Linked DNA regions of Homo sapiens: region 1 is linked to region 2. Evidence: fine-mapped expression QTL. Tissue or cell type: prefrontal cortex. Region 2 holds a variant in brackets; the other region holds the start of a gene. All regions are shown on one strand. Distances are from middle to middle.

Region 1 (5,383 bases), 82 kb after region 2:
GGCTAAGGCAATTGGGAGTGGTGGGGACTGCGGTGTCCTGAAGATCTAATGCCACCTCTGAGGCAAGCAGCTGCTACTCTGCTCCTGGCCTTTGCTGCTATGCAGAAACACAGGCCCAGCATTGCCACATCTTCTAAACTTTTAAAGAGTAGCCTGAAACCCAGGACCCTGCATATAAAACCCCCTGAACTTTGGCTATTGAAAACCAATGTGATTTTAAAAGCAATGACATGTAGGCCAAGAAAATATACCTATAGGCTGCATTCAGCCTTGAGTCCGCCAATTTACACCTTCTACAATGTTCTCATTGAGGAACCCCAGTGGGTACCATGACTCCCTCCTTCTAAGCTGTCTTTCCTAGGTTTCATCTTCCCACATATGGGCAATGTTAGAGGCACTTCTGCCTCATTTTATAAAATTTGGCCATTTTCTACCAGGCCTTAAAGAGAAGAAGAGATGGAGTTAAGTGAGAAAAATATGGCTATGTGGGGAGTAAAGTGAATATTCCAAAAGTAAGTATCCTCTGGGATTGAAGAACGAACGAAGTGGACAATTATTCAAGTGACTCTTCTGTCTAAACTGGCCTTGGGTAAGAAAATATGCCCGTAGGCTGCTCTGTATTTTTCTACTCTGGGTGGCCTAGCAGCCTACCTGGCCCAGGTGATGGCTTTCAGGGACCACACTTTAGCTGGGCAATGCACAGCTTTTCCGGGTTGTTATGTACAATTTCAGACTAACCCTCAAGGTCTACCCAGGATGATTAATCTTGAAATAATTTCAGATGCCATTTATTATGGCTTGGAGCTTAGGAATATCTTCAGACCCATTGATGGGAACACTGACTCCTGAGCACAGTCATTTGAGGTGTCTTTAAACAGAAAATTTCAATGTTATCTCAGTTGGGACACACTTTTTCAAAAGCACGATCGGTTGCCAAGAATAACAGGACTTCATATTGCAGAGTGAATTCAGAGGATCAAACTCCAGGAGCCTTCGGATGTCTGATTATTGGATCATCCTGTCTGGCTGCATAAGATGCATCCACGATATTTACTTGGTGCCCACAATATTCCAGGATTGTCCTAGTTGCTTATACGTATTTGTTCTGATTTTATTGGTGTGTAAAGGAGCCCTTGCCATCTTTTCTTTTTTTTTCTTTCTTTCTTTTTTTTTTTTTTTGAGACGGAGTCTTGCTCTGTCACCCAGGCTGGAGTGCAGTGGCGCAATGTCGGCTCACTGAAAGCTCCGCCTCCCGGGTTCACGCCATTCTCCTGCCTCAGCCTCCCGAGTAGCTGGGACTACAGGTGCACGCCACCACGCCTGGCTAATTTTTTATATTTTTAGTAGAGACGGGGTTTCACCGTGTTAGCCAGGATGGTCTAGATCTCCCGACCTTGTGATCCGCCCGCCTCGGCCCTTGCCATCTTTCTACTTGAAAATGAGATTGAAAGTTGTTTCAGCTCAGATCTGAACTAAACACTTTTTATGAACCAAAAGTTCCCACCCGCGGGGCTTAAGAGTTGCATTAGTGCCAAATAATTGACTTAATTATTTTTAGCTTAATGAAAAATGTCTCATTTTCTACTTGATTGATTGATTCTGTATCCTTTTAAAAATTTTTTTGGTATGACACAACTGTCTGAACTATGTCTAGCTCTGTTTATATTCTGACTTGGAGGAATTCTGGGAGCCAAATCATAGCTAAACGTGTGAATCTTCACTAATCGAAATGGGTGGAATTTTCTGTAAAGATGCAAACTGGCTTGACTGTGTCCAGTTATTGCTCCTGAATCCTAACTGCAGTGAATGGAGGGAGGGGCAGTGTACTACGCGAGAGGGTGGGTCCTGAAAACTAGACATCCCTGGGTGCTAGCCCTGTGTTGAACCTCTTTCTCGTGCAGATTTGGACAAATATTTATTCTGCACTTTAGTTTCCTTATCTGTAAAATGAATATGATAAGAATTATGTTTACTTACAATATAAACCTCTTCAATGAGTAGAAGCAGTGAGAGACATAGTATAAGTAATCAATACACGCTAAATGTCTCAGAAGTCATCTTAGAACATTAGTAGAATGTATTTTTTATAGTTTGATTTTAAATTCACAAATAGTAACTGTATATATTTATAGAACAAAATGTGATGTTTTGATACCTGTATACATGGCGGAATGATCCAATTAGGCAACTTAGTATATCATCACCTCAAATATGTATCATTTCTTTGTTATATGAACATTACGTGTTTTTGGACTAAGTGAAACAGAGACTGTTTGGAAAGCCATAGAAAGTAGCCACCCTCTTTTTATCCTCACACCAAAGAAAAGCTGACCACTTGCTAACCAGCCCACTTATTTCACCTTAAAGTAAATTGAATCTGGAACCCTGGATCATTCTATGAAATTTTCCAAAAAGCTAGTCAGAGGCCGGGCACCGTGGGTCACACCTGTAATCCCAGCACTTTGGGAGGCTGAGGCACGCGGATCACCTGAGGTCAGGAGTTCGAGACCAGCCTGGCCAACATGGTGAAACCCTGTCTCTACTAAAAATACAAAAATGAGCCAGGCTTGGTGGCGGGTGCCTGTAATCCCAGCTACTCAGGAGGCTGAGGCAGAATAGCTTGGTCCCGGGAGGCAGAGGTTGCAGTGAGCTGAGATCCCGTCATTGCACTCCAGCCTGGGTGACGAGAGTGAAACTCCATCTCAAAATAATAATAATAATAATAATAATAATAATTAAAATCTAGTGAGAAAGCAAAGTAAACTCAAGGAAGTCCTGGCTTTGCGATTTTGTTTTGTTATTCCTAAGCACTGCCTCACCTGCTCTAGCGTGGGAGCTGAGTCGTCAAGGGGAAAGACAATGAAATTGCTCTAAGTTATCATCTCTCCAGGCATTGTTCTGTAATAACTGTCACTGTTAACAGAAGAGGCCTCCCTCCTGCAGTGGGAATACCAGGGGTGGGCACTGTCAAGAGACCCAGCTTTGACTTCAAATGCCACCCAGAGGGACAACTGCTCACTTTCAGAGCAGGAGCAGGAGGCCAGAGGAGAGTGTGAGTCTAACATCTGCACAGTGAGAAGTCCAGGAGAAGCAAAAATGAGATCCAGGCTGGAGCGGCTGTGCCAGAGTAACTGTTCCAGCGGGTGTGGGGGAGGGTCCCCCAAAAAGACTTACCTGGACTGAATGGGAAATAATAGAAAATAGGAGCAAGAGACTGTCACTTTATAATAGGTTCTGTTATGACCTCCTACAACAATATGTTAGAAATTATGATTTCTAATATGTCTATGATACAGATAGACATATAGTTAGAAAACTAAATAAAGAGACAGATTTTGAGCTAGGTATACTTACAGATACAGACATTGATATCATAGATAAACATGTTCTTTATTTTTATATTGTCAATGTTTGTGTTGCTGGAAAAAGGGGTCCCTATGATCCAGACCTCAAGAGAGGGTTCCTGGACCTCCCACAGAAAGGGATTCAAGGTGAGTTGTAGAGTGTAGTGAGAAGAGATCATTTATTGAAAATTCTTCAGATTCAGAGTAGGGTGTCCTCAGAAAGCAAGAGGAGGAATGCCCTGTCTTTGTTTTAAACTCTTCTTACACAGGGGTCTCATCTACATAAAAGCTAAGCTATCTCTGTGTGTGGGTGGGCTGACAATGTGACAAGATGTAGTACTTTGGCCATTTAAAGAAAGTTATCCTTGGCATTTTAGTTTATAAGTACATGAAAGCATGATTGTACATTTCTTAAAAGCATATATTGTTATGTGATATTGGGACATGTGGACTTTCTGCTGTTGTAGGAGTTTGTCCTTGCAGGCATTGCCAAGCGGTTTCCTCTGCAGTAAACATCTTATGACCACGGGTCATAACTGGCAAGGAATGTGTGTTGCGAGTTTAAAGATGGAGTTAATTTTAAAATGGTGACACCTGGCTCTCTAGGCGCCTGCTTTTCTAACTTTTCTAGGTATAAACCTAATCTTCCTTGCTAGATCACAACCTCCAATGATCTATTTTTCATCTTCAGTTGTCCCAAGCACTAGCTTGTTCTGCGAGCGTCTCGTGGTCATGGAAAACTGATAAAGCACAGCATGAGAGGCTCAATGGATAAGAAATTATAAAGAATCACTAAATTTGCATAGGTGTTTTGATTGTGACCTACCGAGGAAGGAAGTGGAGAGGGTGTGTGGGAGGGAGGACAGCAGATGTGTAGACACGGCTTCATTTGCCTCCCACCGGGAATTTTGCCCGAGACTTATGGAGAGAATGGCCATTGGCAGAGACTGAAAGAGTTGATTTGATTCTCTGAGGCCTGATGCACTTGGTGAATTGTTTTGGGGTCTCTGTGGCATTAGGATAGGGGCTTTTTTTCTTTTTGTTTGTTTTGTTTTGTTTTTTTGGTCAAATGTCCTGTGTTTCAGGTTTCAACCAAGACTTTGGGAAACCAGGACTACTTGAAACCCTGATGGACTGCAGTGTTCAAAGAAGGAGGGAACAAAACCCTCTGGAAACCTCTGGAATTAGTGGCTGGGAAATAGCCCTTGGTTACTCTATGGACAGCAGATGTCCCAGACAGAGCCAGAGCCTAAGAACATGGGAGGTTTTTTCGTTGTGGTTTTTGTTTCTGTTTTGAGACAGAGTCTCGCTCTGTCACCCAGGCTGGAGCACAATGGCATGATCTGGGCTCACTGCAACCGCTACCTCCTAGGTTTCAGCGATTCTCATGCCTCAGACTCCCGAGTAGGTGAGATTATAGGCGCCCACCATCACGCCTGGTTAATTTTTATTTTTTATAAAAATGGGGTTTCACCATGTTGGCTAGGCTGGTCTCAAACCCCTGACCTCCAGTGATCCACCTGCCTTGGCCTCCGAAAGTGCTGGGATTACAGAGCCGCTGTGCCTGGCTAACATGGGAGGTTTTTAAATATCTGTGTTTCCAGAATGAACCGGTGAGTCTTTGAAGTCCTTGTATGAACAGGACTGGGCACAAGTCAACCAGAATAATTTGCAGACATGCAAGCTGTTTGTATCCAGCGGATCAATAGCAACCTGTTTTAGCTTTCCATCTTTCTTTAAGGAAATGTCCTATCTCCAATACTACTGTGAAATTCTAGAGCATAAGAAGAGAATAAAGTCTTGATGTACGGTTTGGTTGGTAGGCAGAGCTCCACCCCACCATCTCCTTGGTGACAGTGCCCCACTCGTGAGAAGGGTACTGTTTCTTCCCTGGTGTTAGTGTTACCTAGTATAATGCCTATGTGACATAGCTGAATTTCTACCCTATCCTAACTCTGCTACTCTTTAAGGATGCCTGCAATAAAAAGTTCCCTTTTTAACCAGACCAGCTGAAACTGATTAGAGCCAAGATAGCCAAC
Region 2 (5,383 bases):
TACCAAGGGAAGAGGGGGGGAAGTGTTCAAAATTACATTTCGTTCATTCATCCATTCAAAAAATACTTAACAATCACCTGCTTTATAGCAGTCACTGTCTTGCACCGGGATATAACACGGTACAAACTAGGTGCGATCTTTGCGATTATTAGGTTTATTGGTAGCAGTTGTTGCTGTTACATCTCACTGCTCTCATTGCAAATGTTGATGGTGGCTTTTACGTCTGTGAAAATAAAAAGCATGACCTTTTGATAGTTGTTTGCTGTATGGAAGCCTATTTTACTATGTTTGCATGCAAACTTCTATCTGACCTTAAGCTAATGGGAGCTTGTAAAGAGGTGGAATCGAATGTAAAGTTTGAAAAGACAAGAAAAGAGAAAAGGAAAGGGAAGGGATGGGGAGGGGAGAGAAAGAGAGGGGAGGGAGTCGGAAGAGAGGGGAGGGAGGGGAGGAGAGGGGAGGCAAGAAGGAAGGGGAGGGGAGGGAAAGGGAAGAGAGGGGAGGGAGGGGATAGGGGAGGGACGGGAGGAGAGGGGAGGGGAAGGGAAGAGAGGGGAGGGGAAGAGAGGGGAGGGAGGGAAAGAGAGGGGAGGGGAGGGGAAGAGAGGGAAGAGGAGGGGAGGGGAAGAGAGGGAAGGGAGGGGAGAAACAACAACCATATGTCTTTATTTCCTGTTAGCTCCATTTCTGGCCTTTGGTCTCTTTCTCGGAAAGCAGGCCTCAGTGGCCTCAGTTTCTTCCCAGAACCTGCAATGCCCCACCAAGGTGACAAGAAGTGCAAGGTAGTTAGCTCTCCTTCAGTGCTTATGAGTTGAAGGTGATAACATCTGAAGACCGGTTGTCACATTTGAATTTTTCTTTTTATTTCAGGAGTCGGTTTTCACTGCCAACCAAAGAGGTGACCCCCGCAAAGCAACCATGTTGGGACAGTCCATTTGCTGCGTTTTGATTATTTGCTAAGAGCAAATACCTTTTCTGTTTGGGTTTTGCTTTTAGAAAAAAAATGTGGCAGATGGTGGTGGCTTTCCCCGTCATTGAAAGAAGAAAGGTAGTAACTCTACTGGTGCACTCCTCTGAGTTGTGCTAACAAAGAAGAATGCTGAAAGAAAAGGGAAATGAACACCATTTTCAGGCAGCTTCTCCAAGTTTTTTTGACAGTGTTATAATTTTCCTTTAGCGACTGTTGAAGCAAATATCTGTATTTATGTTCAGATTAAACCGAGAGAGCAAAGACTGCTAAAGCCAGTAATTTCTGGGCTGCAAATGCAGGATAGCTCCAGTGAATTTCAGATTCTTAAAGGTTTTTGCTGTAGCGAATTCATGACACAAAGCATTTGGAGGGAAACCTATTAGAGAAGAAACACATCCTAAATGAGAATTACTGAGGACGGGAGGCTCTTGTCATTTATTGGATTAGTTATAGCACTTTACACAAGCCTGTAATATTTGTTCTGCTGCTGTGGTGTGACTGGTAAAATGAAAAGGTATGTCAAGGGAGTGCTTGACTGACGTTCTTATTTCTTCCGTCTTCTTATATTGCTGGGAGGATTCTACCACTGCAGGGCTAGAAATTAATATCACACTCATTTGATAGGAAGAGCAAAAGCAAGGTTATGAGTCAGAGACATTTTGGTCCCAGAACAATAACTCTATTGATTGAGTCAAATATGTTTAACTCCAACAGCAAGACCTTCCATCTGCGTGAAATAATCATGTCCGTTAATTGTAAACAGGAGCATCTTTGAAAGCTGAGCTAGAGGCGGAGCAACTGGTAAACCAGATGTCCCAAATTTCTAGGTTTGTACATTGTAATTGTTCTAGACTTGTGTGTGGATATTGGTAAAATGACATAGTCAGATATCTCACAGATTTTGTGAGATATGTCCAAAGTTCCCAAGTTAATTTATTACTAAAGTTAGAATTTCACTTACTGTGAGATTGGAATGCCAGCCAGCTACTGAACCTTATGTGTGCCTAGGGGCCATTTTGAGACAATTTGCTGAATATTAAAAGTACAACCAATAATGTTTCTCTCCACATCCACAATAGCGCTTAGAGGAAGCATCTGGGATTGAGCCATCTCACATCTGTCTAATCACATTCATTCAAATGTGATGGGCCCAACTGGCCTACGTACATGGCTGCATATCACCATGGGTGGAAATTAAATCAGAATTTGGCTCAGGAGAGAGATGAAGAGAAAATGCACGTAGATAATTGGCTCAGATAACATTCTGTTTCTGGAAGTCACAAAGAGTGGAAATTGGAATATGTAAATTAAAGAAAAACAGGTAAGAATTCACATGAACCCCAACCACACACCCTGTGTATGTTCTCATTCTCATTCTCTCTATGGTGCCTGTGAGCAGTTGGAGTTTGAATTTTTCAGTCAGTAAGGTTTGCTGTTTATTCGAGGGCTGCTCCTAAAAAATAATCAGGTCTAGTCAAGAATATAGAAAAGTGAAATTATGCATATTTTCCTGGGGAATATAATAGATGTTCTCATAGTCTTACAATGTAAAAAAAATGAAGGTAAGACTCTAGCTCCCTTTCTTCTATCTTTCTGGCCTCATTTTAGGCTAATATTTTCTTTTGCAACCATATACCAAATTATTACATATGGAAGCTGTGAAACTGAAGGTTCTGTAAAACTTTAAAGCCAGAGAACTTATGACTCCTCCATATAGGAAGAGAAATGGGAGAATATTAGGCTGTTTTTAATACTGGGCATCTGGTATTTTTCAGTCCTTAAGATCAAGTCCGCAATGGAAGAAGAGCATTCATCTGGTACAGGTTGATGATTGTGTAAGCCCAAGGAGTGATGTCAACACTGGGGTTCACCTGAGAACATGGACATGGTTGATGAGGGTTTAGGAGATGCTCATACGAAGTCTTCATATGTTCCCTGGATCCCAGCTCTGCCTTCCCACCAGAGAGGATGTAATTCAGCCGAGATGCCCAGAGTCAGCTCTCTGCTCATATCTGTTCCGCACTGAAGCCAATCATCTGAGAAACCTAAGAAGTGTTTAATGTAGTTAGGAAAGTGAGGGATGAAGACCATAAATTCCTTTTCATGTAGCAGAGTATATATGTGATACTCATTCTGTGGTATTTGGGGCATAAACAAGAGTCGATGAAGGAATGTGAA[A/G]GTACTCGAAATCCTGACTTTTATCTCTATAAAAATGGCATAGGGATGAAACACACTTGGTTGTTATGACTGTACTCTTTTCAGATTTACTACTTGCCTTTCTACTGATTTTTCTGTGCCACAGGTCTTGACTCCTGTAGGCTAAATTTCTCAGCCTCTTCTGCTCACTGATATATGGGAAGGTTTGGCCAAAGGTGGGTGACTGGTGGGGAGAAGGATGAGGGAATTCAGGGGATTGCTGAGCCCATTCTCTAGACAGTGCTGCTGGCACTGGCTCTGTCTTCTCCGTTTCCATCTCGCATCAGACGGTTCTTCCCTCTATGGGCCTAGTCCTACCTAGACACTTTCCAGTTGGATTCCAGTTCTGGGGATGCTCCCTCCTGCAGGGATCTAAGTCCTTCCCATTGTCTTCGGCTCCTGGGCTCAGCTAGAACCATCTTTTCCCATTGTCCCTGTGGTGCTAGGGCTTTCAGTGGTTATTAACGTCTGTGTTGTATCATCTTGCCTGAATTTCAGCTCTCTGTAACCAGTTCCCCAAATAAAATTCCCCCCATTTACCTACCTTCTGTGAGTCTGTTTGCCTGACATGACCGTATTAAGTATACCCGATATATTAGTGAGCTTCGGATGATATCACAATGTGCCGTAGACTGGGTGGCATAAAAAACAAAGGAATGTATTTCTCATTGTTCTGGAGCTGGGAAGTCCAAGATAAAGGTGCTAGCCAATTCTATTTCTGATGAGGGCTCTCTTCCTGGCTTGTGGATGGCCACCTTGTCACTCTATTCACACACGGTGAAGAGAGATAGAGAGCAAGCTTTCTGCTGTTGCTTCTTATAAGGGCACTAATCTCCTCATCATGGCCCCAACCTCTTGACCTCATCCAAACCTAATTCCCTCTCAAAGGCCCCATCTCCAGATATGTTGCAGCATAGGATGGTCCACAAACACATGTGGGACTTAGCGCCATCGCTTCACTGAGCATGAGCTCGGGAGCTCATGAGGGCTGTAGTGCCCAGACAGTGGTCCCCAGACTCCAGTGATTTAGGTAATCCCACCATATTTTTTTTATCATGCCACTCAAGAGTTTATTCATAACTGTGAACTTCCTATCCTGTTGTTAATGTTTTATTCCTGAAGTGAACTCAATATTTTTTCTTAAAAATAATTTCCGTTTCAATTTTTAGATGTTTTTGAAGTAGAAGAACACAGACAAGTTGCACAGCTTACATTTTACAAATTCCACATATCCAGAACGAGCAACAGAACATTACCATGCACCCCTTCCCAGTCACCAATTCCCCTCCAAGAGTAACATCTACACTGATTCTTTGCTTACAATCAAATAGAAGAAAGAGGAAATGCTATGAAGGGGTTCCTCATCAAAGAGGCTGTCCAAATGACTACTAATCACATGATACGTTCTCAACCTTCACCAAGGAAATTCAATACAATATCTCTATAGACTCACCACAATGACTAACACGAAAAAGACAAATATGCAAAATGCTGGCAACCAAAGTTTCCTTATATTGCTGTACCCATACCCTGTAGTCGGTACATCACTTTAGTAAACTCTTTGGAAATATCTATCAATGCTTGCACATATGCATATCCTATGACCCAGCAACTCCACTCCAAGGTACACATACAACCTAGAAGTACATGCAATTTATGATCTAGCATGCCCACAGTAGCTCTACATGTAAAGAAAAGAAAGCAGCATGAACAATAGAATAAATACAATGTAATATACTTACATAATGGAAGAATACACAATAATGAGATTTAAAGATATCTAACTATACATAATAATGGCAGTATATCATAAATATAATATTCAACGCAAAAAGCAGTCTTGAGACTATGTGCTTTTGACTGCATATAAATAAATATATTTAAAAAGAAATTTTCTACTGCTACCAGAAATGGAAAATCAGAATCACTTAAAAAGCAAACCTCCCTCCAAATTATTAAATCCCCCCAAATAATATTAAATCCTACCTATATTTGGTTGCCTACCAAATTTCCTTACCTAAGACCTCTTTGTTAAAAAGATTTTCTAGCGTAAGAGAGGTTTAATGAATATACCAGCGTTAAAATGAGTCTTTTTTCTTACAGTCACATGAGGTATTGAAAGAGAACTGGAAATGAAATTGCCTAATGAGTCATCAGACAGCAACTAAAAGTCTTGAACTGTGACAGCCACCAAAAGTACGAATAGCTCACATCCCT

Which allele goes with the higher level. Positions count from the first base shown, and alleles are read on the strand shown. Sizes are in standard deviations (SD) of each study's normalised expression.
For the expression in prefrontal cortex of the gene that starts at base 2,945 in region 1, allele A in region 2 goes with a lower level than allele G (moderate effect, 0.44 SD a copy in BrainSeq).

Evidence for each region. PIP is the estimated chance that this variant, and not a neighbour inherited with it, causes the effect.
Region 1: it holds the start of LINC02347, and the variant in region 2 is the best candidate, but not a certain one, in a credible set for the expression of LINC02347 in prefrontal cortex (BrainSeq, PIP 0.54).

What each region holds. Positions count from the first base shown.
Region 1 is chr12:126,439,537-126,444,919 of GRCh38, forward strand. It overlaps LINC02347 (long intergenic non-protein coding RNA 2347), which reads left to right and starts at 2,945. Exons shown (of 12, transcript NR_130748.1): 1 at 2,945-3,052; 2 at 3,430-3,491; 3 at 5,349-5,383. All of the region lies in intron 2 of LINC02825 (long intergenic non-protein coding RNA 2825), which reads right to left.
Region 2 is chr12:126,357,356-126,362,738 of GRCh38, forward strand. LOC105379613 (a long non-coding RNA gene) reads left to right here. Exons shown (of 3, transcript XR_001749379.1): 3 at 1-372. It overlaps LOC101927531 (a long non-coding RNA gene), which reads left to right and starts at 664. Exons shown (of 3, transcript NR_187677.1): 1 at 664-782; 2 at 871-2,291; 3 at 2,746-3,710. The variant A/G (reference allele first, on the strand shown) is at 3,149.